2 linked regions of the Homo sapiens genome follow. The protein of the gene in region 1 interacts with the protein of each later gene in a pairwise test. Each region holds a gene or a part of one and is shown on either strand. Other genes may lie near its edges.

Evidence for each region. The genes of interacting proteins can lie anywhere in the genome.
Region 2: the proteins of SCMH1 (region 1) and SFMBT1 interact in binary tests that used the Homo sapiens proteins (3 or more experiments, as listed by UniProt).

The regions. Positions count from the first base shown.
Region 1 is NC_000001.11:41,239,298-41,246,844, reverse strand, and holds the start of SCMH1 (polycomb protein SCMH1), read left to right. Parts: upstream 1-4,538; 5' UTR 4,539-4,786; intron 4,787-7,547. UniProt on the Homo sapiens protein: Associates with Polycomb group (PcG) multiprotein complexes; the complex class is required to maintain the transcriptionally repressive state of some genes.
Region 2 is NC_000003.12:53,043,074-53,049,921, reverse strand, and holds the start of SFMBT1 (scm-like with four MBT domains protein 1), read left to right. Parts: upstream 1-3,848; 5' UTR 3,849-4,106; intron 4,107-6,848. UniProt on the Homo sapiens protein: Histone-binding protein, which is part of various corepressor complexes. Mediates the recruitment of corepressor complexes to target genes, followed by chromatin compaction and repression of transcription.

The sequences.
Region 1 (7,547 bases):
ATCTCTGGGCTCAATGAACCCTCCTCTGCCTTCTCCATATTACAGAGGACATTGCAAAGTCCTCTGTAATAGCCTTTTTTGCATTGTCATGGTCCCTTGTAGACTGAGATCCTTAAAGACACGGATTGTACTTTACATTTATTTGCATTCCCAGTTCCTGGCACATAATAGGAGTTCCATAGATATGTGTGGAATAGAATTGAGGCCTAATCCTTTTCCACATGTTAGCCCTTCAATTATCTGAAGACCCTTCTAAGGCCTTGCCCTACCCCACTCTACTCCCATTAGTAGTTATTTCTTCTGCAGGCTAAATGTTCCCAACTCCTTTCAGCTGCTCCTTATAAAGTCTGATTTCCAGATTCCTTATCTGGTCATTTGCTTCTGGGTCATAATTTGTCAACATCACTCTTTTAAAATATAATGCCTAGGACAAACTCAATAGCCCAAAGTCTGGCCATAGCAGAACAAAGTGAGGGGATTCCAAACTGTGATTCCAATCTATGACGTTTTCTTGGCCATTACTGTGTGCCAGGAGGTCTTTCTACTTTATTTTCTTTCAGTCTTCAATAATCTGGTGAGGTAGGTGTCATTTCTTCCATTTTATAGATGAGGATATAAGCCATCTGGTAAGGCACTTTGAGAATAAGTTAAAGTCACAATTCCAGAGCATAAAGCAAACTTGTGATCAACTGATACCTTTAGATCATTCGTACATCAACTGCTGTAAAGTTATTATTTTTTCCAGTTACCGGCTAGTGACAGGCTTAAGGGAAACTGAGGACAAAGAATCAGTACCTTTAGAAGGGTGTGAAACCAAAGCATACAGAAAAGGCAGGTTGGATTAATGACCACCTTCCTAACAATAACAGCCTTTATCTAGGAGCTCAGAGACTGGAATGTCTTAACCACACAGCTTCCTGGAACTATTTTTACTTTGTATTTTACAAGAGGAGAAAGAGCAGAAGCGTCTTAGATAAACAACAAGGTTTGGGCTCAGCACATGTCTGAATCTGAACAGCCAGTGGGGCCCTGTGGTCACAAGGCAGATAATAAGGAGGTTGCCTCTTTGGTCTGTGGCTTGGGTCTGAAAGGGTCCTACTGTGCACATTCATTCTATAAATATAGACTGATCACCAAATGTGTTCCAGGTATGGTGCGAGGTGCTGTGGATGTAATGAAGAACAAAGACAGAGTTCCAATCTGTGGAGCTTACAGTCAGGTGAAAGATAAGCATAAATGAAAATGATATGCACAGATCCTAGTAAATGCAATGATGAATGAAGGTGCCAGGCTACAAGGAGAGCGAAAGGAGGGGCATTTAATTTATCCTGGGGTGAGGATGGAAGAGAAGGTATCAGAGGAAGTTCCTGGGGAAGGTAGTCTTAATTGATGTGTAGGACTTAATGTGGTGAAGGCTCTTATGTATTTCAATGCATCCCCCCCACACCCCGCAACACACATACTTTCTTTAAGCATCAGAAACCATCTTTCCCATTTCCTTTACCAACTCTTCTACTGGGTCATCAACAACATGAAAAAAAACAAAAACAAAAAACAAAACAAAAACTACTGTTTTTGTCAGTTCTGTCAGTGCCAGAATAATCACTCCTTTTTGCTGTAATGTAATGTAGAAAAGAGCAGACCTGGGGTTTCCTAGCATACCTCCTTTAAAAAAAAATTACATCCTGATTAACTTGCCTATTTCTTCCCTCTCCATTGCCTCTGTATTTCTTGGCTTCCCCACACCTGTAACCCAAAGGTCACAGGGTCTGTCATAGCCCAATTCCACTCTCCAGTTGCCTCTTGGTTTTTAACCCCCCTTATTAAAATCCAAACATTAAGCAACTAATAACACCCATGTGTAATTAGTTGTTTAATTGAACAGCACAGAACTGTTAATACATTATGCTGTGCCCTGGAATATTAAGTGGAATAAAAGCAAAGTACTATATTCAAGGAAACTACAGTCTGACTTAAAATACTACAATGGGAAACATTTCACACAGAGATTTTTACCAAGTGACAGTGGAGAGGAGGGAGAAATGAGTTCTTCCTGAGAAGTGTCAGAGAAGTTCTGAGCTGGATCTAAAAAAGAAGCAGGAGGCTGGGTGTGGTGGCTCACGCCTGTAATCCCAGCACTTTGGGAGGCCAAGGAGGGCGGATCACAAGGTCAGGAGATTGAGACCATCCTGGCTAACATGGTGAAACGCTGTCTCTACTAAAAATACAAAAAATTAGCTGGGCGTGGTGGCAGGCGCCTGTAGTCCCACCTACTCAGGAGGCTGAGGCAGGAGAATGGCGTGAACCCGGAAGATGGAGCTTGCAGTGAGCCGAGATCATGCCACTGCACTCCAAACTGGATGACAGAGCGAGACTCCATCTCAAAAAAAAAAAAAAGCAGGAATCCAAAGGACAATATGCATAATATTTATTTATTTTTAGCAGATGTGGGAATATCTCCCTCATGCCAAGCCTTATCTAAGGCTACAGGTGTGAATAAGGTTCCTGATCTCAAGACGCTTTCAGCCTAGAAAAGAGGTTTAGAAATATACTCCAATAATGGCAACATATATGGTGCCATGGACAGAGTTACAGAACAAACTGCTAGGGGAATTCATAGAGAAAATGTTCAAGAGAACATTTCTCACTGGACGTAGTAGGCAGAATTCTAAGGTAGCTTCCTAGATTAACCTTCATGTACACCTTCTGCATAGTCCCTGGGACAGTGGCTATGATGAATTTTACTCCTGTGATTAGGGTATGTGATGTGGCACAGGTGATCTTAAAGTAGGAAGATTATCTAGGTGGGTCTGACCTAATTACAAGTCTTTTAAAAGCTCATAGTGTTCTCTGACTGGTTGAAGAAGGGAAATCAGAGATATTTAAAGAATGAGAGGGAGTGACATGAGAAAGGTTCTCTGTTGATGAGATAAAAGGGATCACGTGGCAAGGACCTGAGAGTGGTCCCCAACAGAGAGCTGGCAAAACAGTGTAGCTGTGGGATCCTAGTCCTACAGGGACATGAATTCTGCCAACAGCCCGAAGGAGCCTGGGGCAGACCTTTCCCTCGTGGAGGTGCTAGACATCTTGATTTCAGCCTATGACACCACGAGCAGAAAACCCAGCCACACCATGCCAGTTTTCCGACCTACACAACTGTGAGTAAATCAATGGGTGTTGCTTTAAGCTGCAAAATTTGTGCCAATTTGTTATGCAGGAATAGAAAACTAATATGAGCACTTACAACACTGTGCTCTCATTAGCTATTGACATAATAGTTTCCCCAAATATGGGCTCCTTAGATTTAGGCTCTAATTATCCTTGTAACCTCAGGGCTCTTCATGAGACAGGTACTCCCCAAAACGCCATGGAATGAAAGTTTAAATTAGACAACAGGGATGCAGATCAGAACCTGGATAGATTCTGACCATTTCCATTTCTCAAGAATGGGCAGACGGATACTGACACCAATACCAGGATACAAGGAGGCGGCCCCCCTTCAGTCCAAAGCTCTAAGACCTATTCTAGAGGCAAGGCAAGTAATCCAGGCTCAGCTGCCCCATCTGCTGCTCCAGCCTTGCTTAAGTGGACTTCCCTCCAAGGAACATTGTTCACAGAAGGATCATTAACAAGACATTCCTGTGTGACCTGAGGATTGCCATGTTCTAAATGATGCCCACACCCACTCCACATCCAGCTCAGCAGAGGTCTCGGGATTTATATTGCACTGTATTTTCAAGCAGCCAAAACAGAAGTCAAGACGTCAGTTTCCTAAGCTGCTAAAATGATGTGGTGGTTAAACCAATTGTGTGCCAGGCGCAGTGGCTCACGCCTGTAGTCCCAGCGCTTTGGGAGGCTGACGCAGGAGGATCACTTGAGCCCAGTAATTTGAGGTTACAGTGAGCTATGATGGCGCCACTGCACTCCGACCTTGGGGACAAAGTGAGGCTCCATCTCTAACAAAACAAAAATAGAATTGTGTAGCCAACATGGCTGGTGGGCCTGGAAGAATGAGCCTGTGCATTGTACCTGGCCCATCACGGGCTCAGTGCGTACTCGTTGAAGGGATCACCACAGGGAGGACCGAGGACGCTGACACTCCCTAGGGCATCCAAGCACCAACTCATCTCTCACCTACCCTCCGGGTGCAGTGCTATCGTGTTGGAGAAGAGGCCCCTGGGTGGCTGTGCGAAGTAACTCGCCCAAGGTCACCACACGGCCAGCCACTAGCCCGGCGGGAGTCGCCCGAGGCGAGGCCCACGTCAGCCGGTCTTGGGGGCCCGACCGGTGGCTCCTCCACCAGCCCCACGCGGCCTCAGAGCGGGCTACTGGCGTCCTCGAGATTCGAACCCGAGTCCTCGGCCTCGTCCCCGCCCTCGCGCCCTCTCAGGCCTCAGTTTTCCCATCTACAGGACGCAGACCGGAGAGCTGGTCCGGGCGCCAACTGGGCCCCCGGACCCGGGTCGGCAGGCCGGCGGGGTACGGCCGGGCCGGGTTCCCGCGCGCCCTCCCTCCTCCAGCGCGCCGCCCCGCCCCCCGCGCGAGCCCAACGGCCGAGGCGCGCGCCACCTCGCAGCGGGAGGCGCGGGGGAGGGGCCGGGGGAGCCCCCGCCCCGCCCCCCGCCTCAGCCGCCACCGCCAGCTCGGTGGAGCCCCCCGCCGCCCGCCCGCCGCTCTCCCGAGCCGCCCGCCCGCCCCCTTCCCGCGTCTCCGCTCCCTCCCTGCGCAGCGGAAACATGGCGGCGGGAAGAGAGTGAGCCGCCCCGCGCCCCCGCCGCGCCCTCAGGTAAGCGCCTCGCGGCCGCCTCCGCCCGCCTAAGAGCTCGTGCCCTGAGGGGCCGCCTGGGGCCAGAAGGCGGTGGCGGGACCTGCGCAGCCGCTGCGCCTGCTCCCCCGGGCCGGGGTCAGCCTGTCCGTCTGTCTGGCCGGCCTGCCAGTCTGTGGTCCGCGCGGGGCTGGGCCCTTTCTCGGCCGTGTCAGCCCGGCCCCGAGCCCGGAGGCCGGCTCTGCATCTGCGGTCGGGCGGGCGGGGCCCACGGTCCGGTCGCGGCCCTGACGCCGCCAGGACTGCCCGGGGGCCCCGGCACGGGAAACCCAAGGCCGGGGGCCCTTTGGAGGGTCGGCGTGGGGGCGGTCCGTATAGGTCGCCGTGTCTGGCCGGCGGGGCCGGGTGGGCCGGGGCAGGCTGGCTGGGGGCCGAGGGCCGGGCGGCGGCGCGACCCCGTCTGCGCGGGTCAGTCGGTCCCCTCCGGCGCCAGAGGTGGGAATGCCTGTGATTCTGGCTGGCCGGGTCCCGGTTCGGGGAAGGCAGAGACAGAGGTCGACGGGGCGGCGTGGCCCCCACCGAGAGCTGGGGCGCCTAGGGCCCGGAGCTGTCAGCAGCGTCCTGGGGGCTGGGCCCCGGCTGGCCGACTCACGTGTGCCGCCTGCCCCAGTGCCCCGCCGGAAACGGGCAGGGAGAGCGGCCCCGCACCGAAGTGAGCCACAGCGGCCCTGGGGGCCAGACACGTGGGCACAGTTGTGTGCCAGCCCGAGAGCATCGAAAGTGGTATCCAGCCGATGGGTGAACCCCGGAATATCTCCTGACTGGAAGAGAATTTAAAAGTCATCTAGGGGCGCTTTCTCCCATCCCATGCCAAAGTGACTTTGAAAATCCCCAAATCCCCCCGATAATTTGACGAGCCCGTTTGGAACCTCTTCCAGTGATCCGAAGCGAATCTCTTTAAAGGAAACCCATTCTGTTCCTGGACACATTTGGTTATAAGTTGAAAGAAACAGCTGGCTCCCATCCTTCCTAGTTCTTTTCCCTTATGGGAAGCTGTTAAGATATCTGAAGATAGTAATCATGTCCCCTGAGTCTTCACTTCCACTTTCTTCAGTTGTCTCTCATCTGCTGTGGTTCTCTAAACTGTCCTCTGGATGAGCTTTAGTTTCCCCCATCCCCTTAAAGGAGAGTTTCTTAAAAGTGATCCTGGAGACAAAACGTAGTAAGTTTCTCTAAGAAACAGCCCCAAGGATTGACCTGCTTAAATCAAAAGTACTCTAGATTCCCTTCCTCATTTCTGTACTGTATTTTGAACTTAAAAAAAAAAAAAAAAGAAAACATTTAGTAGTGTTTGTTCAAACAAACTAAAAGACATCTTATTTTGTGGAAATTTGGGGGTTTCCTTCCTTTTAAAAAATGTCTATAAACACTTTATCAAATGTTGCTAACTAATGTACATCAAAATGTTTTGTTGAAGTGTAATGTGCCAGGCAAATAGAATAGCTCTTTTTTTTTTTTTAAACTCTGAAAAGGATTGAGACCTAGTTTAGTGCCAAACTGCAATTTTAATATTTGGTTGCAGAGGGAAATGCTTTATTACATTGAACTCTTTGCTCTAGTTCTAACTGCCAGCAGGAGGCCCAAAATTACTATGAAAGAGAACACTTTTTGTTGCTTACTTACCAACCTCCTAAACTCTTGCCTAAGCAACTCTGCAGGTTAGTAATGTTTTAAGCCCAGTAGAGATGAGATGGCCTTGTAGATAAAAGGCCAGGCTCTTACATCTGGGATCCTGTTTAAGTACTAAGCAAAGTTTCAGTGTTTTTACAACTTAGACAAGCACATACCAGCAGTCAGAATTGGTTCTTTATTTTTGTTCTTAAGCCTTCATTTTTTAAATTGGTCAATAGTTTTGAACTTTGTAGCACATATGTCAAGTTTTGATTTTAGGTATGTTTGTGCAAATGTTGTTCCCTTTTATGTAAGTTGGGTAAACATTTGCATAGCACCATTCTCAATGGAACTATACAGATCCAGAGGAAAGGCCCTGATTCCTTCCTTGCAAAGGACTTGGAGTGAAAGGTAGAGGATACTTAACTATGAGAAAGAATTGATGTGAATATCCCACTGAAAATTTAAACTTAGGGCTGGATGCAGGGGCTCATGCCTATAATCCCAGCACTTTGGGAAGCTGAGGCAGGCAACTCTTTGAGGCCAGGAGTTCTGGACCAGCCTGGGCTACGTAGCAAGACCCTGTCTCTACAAAAAATAAAAATAAAAATATAGCTGGGCATGATGGTGTATGTCTGTAGTCTCAGCTACTCAGGAGGCTGAGGCAGGAGGACCGTTTGAGTCAAGGAGTTTGAGGCTTCAGTGAGCCATGATCACGCCATAGCAAGTGACAGAATGAGACCCCATCTTTTAAAAAAGAAAAGAAAATTGGTATGTTCTAACCTTCACTGTACACTTATGTACCTACTATGGGTCAAGCACTATGCTATGTACTGTGCTCAGCTGGGTTTACAAAGATTTCCAATCTTGTGGAGCTGGTAAATTAGATGCTTAAATAGATTATCTCAGAATAAAAGATGAGAACTACGCATAGCTGAGATATACAAGGTGAGAGTAAAGGTTGCCCAAAGGTGAGGGCACTTAGACTAGCCTAGGAGTTAAAGGAAGGCTTTGGGAAGAGATGATATCTGACCCAAATCTTAAATGGTAGGTAGGAGTAAGTGAGGCAAACATGAGCAGAAAGCGTCCTTCAAACAGAGAAAACAGCTTG
Region 2 (6,848 bases), on another chromosome or scaffold:
AGCCCAGGAGTTCAAGACCAGCCTGGGCAACATGGCAAAATCCTGTCTCTACAAAAGATACAAAAATTAGCTGAGCATGGTGGTGCACACCTGTAGTCCCAGCTACTCGGGGCTGAGGCGGGAGGACTGCTTGAGCCTGGGAGGTAGAGGCTGCAGTGAGCCATGATAGCACCATTGCACTGCAGCCTGGGTGACCGAGTGAGACCCTCTCTCAAAAAAAATTTTAAAAAGGCTGGGTGCGGTGGCTCACACCTGTAATCCCAGCACTTTGGGAGGCTGAGGCGGGTGGATCATAAGGTCAGGAGTTCGAGACCAGACTGACCAACATGGTGAAACCCCGTCTCTACTAAAAATACAAAAATTAGCCGGGTGTGGTAGCGTGCGCCTGTAATCCCAGCTACTGAGGAGGCTGAGGCTGGAGAATCGCTTGCACCCAGGAGGCAGAGGTTGCAGTGAGCCAAGATTGCACCACTGCACTCCAGCCTGGGTGACAGAGCGAGACTCTGTCTCAAAAAAATCATTAACAATAGCTAACATTTACAAAACTTTTACTATGTCCTAGGCGTTGAGCTTGTGAGGCAGCTGTTAATCTTTTTTTTTTTTTTTTTTTTGAGTTGGAGTCTTGCTGTCACCCAGGCTGGAGTGCAGTGGCACGATCTTGGCTCACTGCAAGCTCCGTCTCCCGGGTTCACGCCATTCTCCTGCCTCAGCCTCCCGAGTAGCTGGGACTACAAGCGCCCACCACTACACCTGGCTAATTTTTTTGTATTTTTAGTAGAGACAGAGTTTCACCATGTTAGCCAGGATGGGCTCGATCTCCTGACCTCGTAATCTGCCCACCTCGGCCTCCCAAAGTGCTGGGATTACAGGCGTGAGCCACTGCGCCAGGCCAGAGGCAGCTGTTACTCTTATCCTAATTTTACAGACCAAGACCTGAAGGCCCAGAGGGGATAGATAAGTTGCCAAGGTCACAGGGCTGGTTGTTGAACCTGGATGGTCCGTCCTCAAAGCCAGTCCTCTTAACCCTTATATGATTATCCTAGGATGTGTAGAGACACATAAACCAGTGTGGATATCAACTGATAATCTGAAAAAAGAAGACCTCATAAGGGCATGAGAGGGAATCAAGCCTTTTCATATGTTAGAACCTATTCCAAAGAACCAATATTTAGATTCATATGGTATTTGCTCAAACTGAGGTCTAAGGAAGGAAATGGAGAATTCAGAAATATATTAATCAAAATAGAAAGTCTAGCGTAAAAGTAGATTTTACTAAACAAAGGAATTTTTTTTTTTTTTGAGTTGGAGTCTCGCTTTGTCGCCCAGGCTGGAGTGCAGTGGCGCGATCTCAGCTCACTGCAAGCTCGGCCTCCCAGATTCACGCCATTCTCCTGCCTCAGCCTCCGGAGTAGCTGGGACTACAGGCGCCCGCCACCATGCCTGGCTAATTTTTTTGTATTTTTAGTAGAGACGGGGTTTCACTGTGTTAGCCAGGATGGTCTCAATCTCCTGACCTCGTGATCTACCCGTCTCGGCCTCCCAAAGTGCTGGGATTATAGGCGTGAGCCATGGCGCCCGGCCTTTTTTTTTTTTTTTGAGATGGAGTCTTGCTCTGTCACCCAGGTGGAGTGCACTGGCACAATCACGGCTCACTGCAGCCTAAAACTCCTGGCCTGAAGTGATCCTCCTGCCTCAACCTCCCAAAATGCTAGGACTACAGGTGTAAGTCACCACGTCTGGTCAATAATTATTTAATAAATGGTAACTGCAGAATTAATAACAACCGATGACAGTGGTAGTGAGTTATGTCCATATTTTACTCCAAATAAATAAGCCAAAATAAAATCGGGATAGTCATCAGAGAATGAAATATGAAATGAAATTGTACAAAACTAGCAGAAAAAAGACTATCAGATGGGCAGCAGAAAGCTCACTTTGTCAGCACTGAAGCAATTAAAACATTAGAATGACACACTGAACATTAGAATAAAACAAGAAAGAACAACAGGCTAGAAAATATTTGCATCAATGACGACAAAGAAGTAATATCTGTAACATAAAAAAATGCTTGTTCAAAGTTAGAAGAGGTTCAAGTCCCCAGAAGATGGATATGAATAGATTATTCACAGGAGAGGGAATGCATATAGTAAATGCATGGAAAAACATTCATTTTTGAATGTTGTGTCACCTAAGAAATGCTAAGTAACCTTGAACTAGCAATAGACTATTAAAGTAGGGGGGAAATGGCACTCAATGTTTATAAGTGTGTTAAACTCCTTACACTTGTTCCTTGGAGGCGGTAGAATAATTGGGGCAGCTCTTGGGAAAAATATGACGCTGTAAGCCAAGACCACTTGGCCATTCATAGCCTTCTACCTGGGAGCCTTTCCACTCCCAGGTATTTGTCCCAAGTGCAGAATTCAAGGATACGTTAGCAAACAACCGTAAAGAACCAAAAACATTAGGGGGCTGAGTGAATAGTTAAGGACACCTGCACACCTTAAAAATGAATCGTGAACAAATAAAAATGGTAGTGAAAGTAGTAACAAAAAAAGTGTGGTTGCAACTATACACAGTATATATATGTTTCATGTCGTGAAAAGTTGCATTTCTTTGTAACAATATGGATTACTGTATTCTTTTTAGATTTTTCTTTCTCCGGTTGTCATATTGTTTTTTCAGTGGTGCTAAAAAAAATCTGGATTCAAATCCAGCCAGCAGCGTGACTTTGAGCAAGTTTGTGAAGTGGGATATTTCTCAGAGCGGTTGAGGGAGGTGGCTTGAGCTCGCACCTGGCACACGGTGAGAACCCCAGACTTTCTTCTTGCTGTGGGGGCGCCTCTGGGCCCTGTCCGATAACGCCTTTCACGGCCTGGGAGTCTGATCGGGAGCTCCCGGGTCTCGGTGGCGCGGGAACTCCCTTCTGGAGGGAACTTTCCGGAGCAGGTGGGCGGGTGTATGTCCCACGGGCACCTGCGCTCAGGAGGAGGGGGCGAGCTCGGGCAACGTAACCGCCCACGGTCACCTCGGGCTGCGGGGCCGACTTGAAGCCGCCTTCGAGGTTCTGATCCTTCCCGGGGCTCTGGGCTCGTTCGTCCCAATTCGCAGCTGTCCTGTGCCCCCTCGCTGCAGGAAGACTCAAGATTTACAGGGCGCCTCCTGCGGAAGCCTAGAGACATCGGGGGCGCCGAAGGGCCCGCGCCGGACTTCGCAGACAGGGGGCACTTGGGTGCCCTTTCAGGTCTCAGAGGGAGCGCCCGATCCCCGACGAGGGGCAGGCAAACGGGCGCAGTGCCCGCGGCGGCGGCACGCGCGCATCTGGGATCCGGCCGCTTCTCCGCTCATGCCATCTTGTCCGAGCCAGTCACGTGCGGGCGACAGCGGCGCGCTTCGCCGGGCCGGTACTCCAGGTCCGACCCGCGAACCCCTCTGGGATCCCCGCCGCTCTGTCTACAACCCGAGGTGAGGCGCAGGCTGGATCGGGGCTGGGCCAGGGCGGGCACTGGGTTCCCGGGGACGCGTCTCCTCTTCCGGGCCGTTCCGCTCGGGGCCACAGCGCCGTCGGGGGCCCGAGGCGCCGCCGCGTGTCCTGCGCCACGGCCTCGGGGCCGTCCGCGCCGAGTTGCTGGCTGGGGGCGTGGGTGGCCCGCGGCGCCGGACCCCCGGCACACCAGCCCGCGGAGTCCTTGCCTCCCGCGCGGCCCCAGCCAGGAGGGATGGCGCTGGGGCGGGAGCGGGGCAGCCGGGCCCGGGAGCTCCACGGGCGCGGCGCGAGGGGCGCAGGCTGCCTGGAGGACCGCGGAGCTGGGGGTGGGGGGGCGCGGGCGCATGCGCCCTGCGTCCGTGCCATATTGGAATGAGTCGGAGCGCGGAGCGCCGCCGCCGCCTCCGCCGGAGCGCGGGTGGAGGGGGGCGGGGAGAGCTGCCGGCCGCCCCGCTCCGCCGAACCCAGCAGGAAGGAGGGCGCGAGCGGGCGAGCGCGGGCAGCACGGGAGGAAAAAGCTTCCGCGCGGGGGAGCGAAAAGACGGAAAGAAAGAAAGAAAACGAGCGCGAGAGGGGGAAAAGCGAGCGATCGAGCGAGCGCGCGCGCGAAAACTCCGGGCAGGTAAAAAAGCGGGGCCACCGGCTGGGCCTTCCCGCGCGGCGGCCTGGAGGGGCGGCGGCGGCGCCGGGGCGGGGGACCGTACGGCGTCCCCTTCGAAGCGGCCGCGCAACTTTGCCAACGGGAAACCGCCGGGCGCCGGCGGGCGCGCGGGCTGAGGCGCCAACGGGCGGCGGCGGCGGCACGTTGGGGGCGGGGGCGGGGCGGGGGGAGCGCGGCGCCCGCGCGCGGCCCCGCGGTCCCGCGCGCCGGCCGGCCGGCTGCAGGGGCGCGCCTGGGCGCCTCGCCGCGGCGGAGAGCGGCGGCGGCCGTCAGCCCCTGGCAGGCAGCGCGGCGCGCGTCAGCCCGCGGGAGGCGTGAAAGGAAAGTGGCCGGGCGGCGGCAGTGGCGGGCGCCCAAGTTCCCCGGCGCGCCGGGCCCGCCGCGCGCCCCTCCCCGCGCGCGCCCCGCGCTCCGCCCGCCGAGCCCCCGCGGACCCGCCCCCCGGGCTCGCTCCGGGCGGGGCGCGAACCCGCAGCTGGGGCCGGGCGCGCGGCCGGTCGGAACTTCGGAGGGCCCGGGCGGTCGCTGCGCGGTGGCGGAGCGTCTAGTGGCCGCCGCAACCGGTGGCTCCGGGCCGCCGTTGTGAAGTGAGCGGGCCTCTCCCGCGCCGCGGCCCGCCGGGCACCGCCGCTGGACCCCGCGCCGACCCGGCAGCGCCCCGACCTGCCGCTCGGGAGGTCCGCGACCGTTTCGATTTCTGTTCCTAAAGTCCGATTTTGGACGCTGAAAAGGAGGCTGTGGAGGGGCGAGCGGCGTCCTGGGAAGCAAGGCCTGCTCTGTGCGGAGCAGAAACGCCTTGTGCGAACAGAAATAAATTCCCGCGGAAAGGATGTACGTTATGCTAAGTTTTTCACAAGATGTCAGCTGTTCCCGTAGGGTCTAAAACTAAGCCGGCAGGCACAGGTCACCCCCAGAGCTTGTGCTCAAGGAGTGGTGGACGCTTGGGTCAGGTGGGGGTGTTCCCAGCGGGTCGCCCGAAGCAGCACTGGTTGATGGTCCCAAGTGGTGTTTTTGAGTCCTGTTAGCAGTGATCTGTGTTTGAGAACCAAGTAACCATCAAAGAGATTCGAAAGGAAGTAAGATGGATTTTGTCAATCCCTGCGTATGTCTTCTCTTGAACCACATTTTCTAAGATGTCATTCTTAATTTTATTGCATCTGGGTAAAATGCCTGAACGTGTAATCATTAATTTGTCAACTGGCGAGAGGATGAAGGAAGATGTGTCTTCATGTGTACACTTTGAGGCCTGTTGACTAGCGTTTTGAGGCATTTGTTGAATTAGGCCGTAGGTAGATTCGGAGTTAAGATTTGTTTGCGATGTCAGAAAAGTTACGGCCTGGTAGAAACGGCCAGAGATCAGGAAACAGTTCTGTTATTACCGTTGTCATTGACTAACTGCCTTATCTTGGGCACATTTCTTACCCATTGTAGCTTTGATTTTCCTTATTTGCAACATTAAGATAAACAGATGATGTTTGGGGGTGCTTTCAGTTCGAAAATTCGGTGGCTTTCTTAACTGAAAGATTCTTAGAAATCACAGTGTATATTTTGAGAGGTACTACATAAAAGTGCTCGCAATGTGTGTCTTTATTAAAATTCATTTGGAAAAAACATCTTGGTAGCTAGATCCAGAATGGTTTTATATGATTATTTGAATAGATTTTTAACAATGTATTTTTATGGAGGTATGTATAACCTACCGAAAGATCTTAAGGGTACAATTCAATGACTTTTTATATATGTATATGCCCTGATAACCACACTCAGATCAAGATATGGAACATTTTCAGGCCTTGTATCCTTTCCATTCAGTAAACACATTCCCCCTCCCCAAGGCAACCACAATTCTGACTTCTGTCACCACAGATGAGTTTTGCCTCAAAACAGGACCCTTTTGAGGGTTAAAGGGGCAATACTAACAAACTGAGGATAGCTTGTATGTAAACTTGGAGTTATGGCCGTGTTGGCCATGACCCTTTGCTTTTATAATGATTCTTAGGGTTTTTGTAATCCAGAATAACTTAAAATTCTGTCCTGAGGAACTTCTTAGAAGGTCACTTTTCAGTGGGGGCAATACTTTGCAGGTTACGATTGGTAGTTCTTGGGAGTCCTTATGTTCACAGACAATGGTATTAATCTATGACTTCCCATTTTTAGAATATAGGTACTATATATTTGTAGACAACAGATTTGAAGAATGAATCATGAATTTTCCTAACAAGTTAGAGTTTAAGGTGTCAGTAGATGAATCAGTTTCTTAATGCCTAGAATTTGCTGAGAAAATTGAATGAAAATTGGTTTCTTAAAGTTAAGTGAATTAAGAATGTGTGCGTAAAGCTTTAACAACCTTTTCAATGACAGCAGTTGACTTATATATACAGGATAGTCAGCTGGTTTATCAAATCATTTAAAGTGCAACAATGAAAGCAAAAACAAAAGGTTAACTAAAAATTATGTCAGGTGTGATTAAAAAAATCAGCATGACTAAGATACCTTTTTTTTTTTATTAACCCTCTTTCTAGGAAGGTGGACTTTTAAATATTCTCCACTGAAGCAAATGCTGCAACAATTTGCATTTCCTTCACCAATGTCGTCTTGTGCCTTTTCTTGTTCCTACTGTAAAGGAGATGGGTTAGATGTTGTAAGTGAATTCTTATTTTGTTAGTTCCTAACAAAGGCTTGTGTTTTTTACTGCAAAGATAT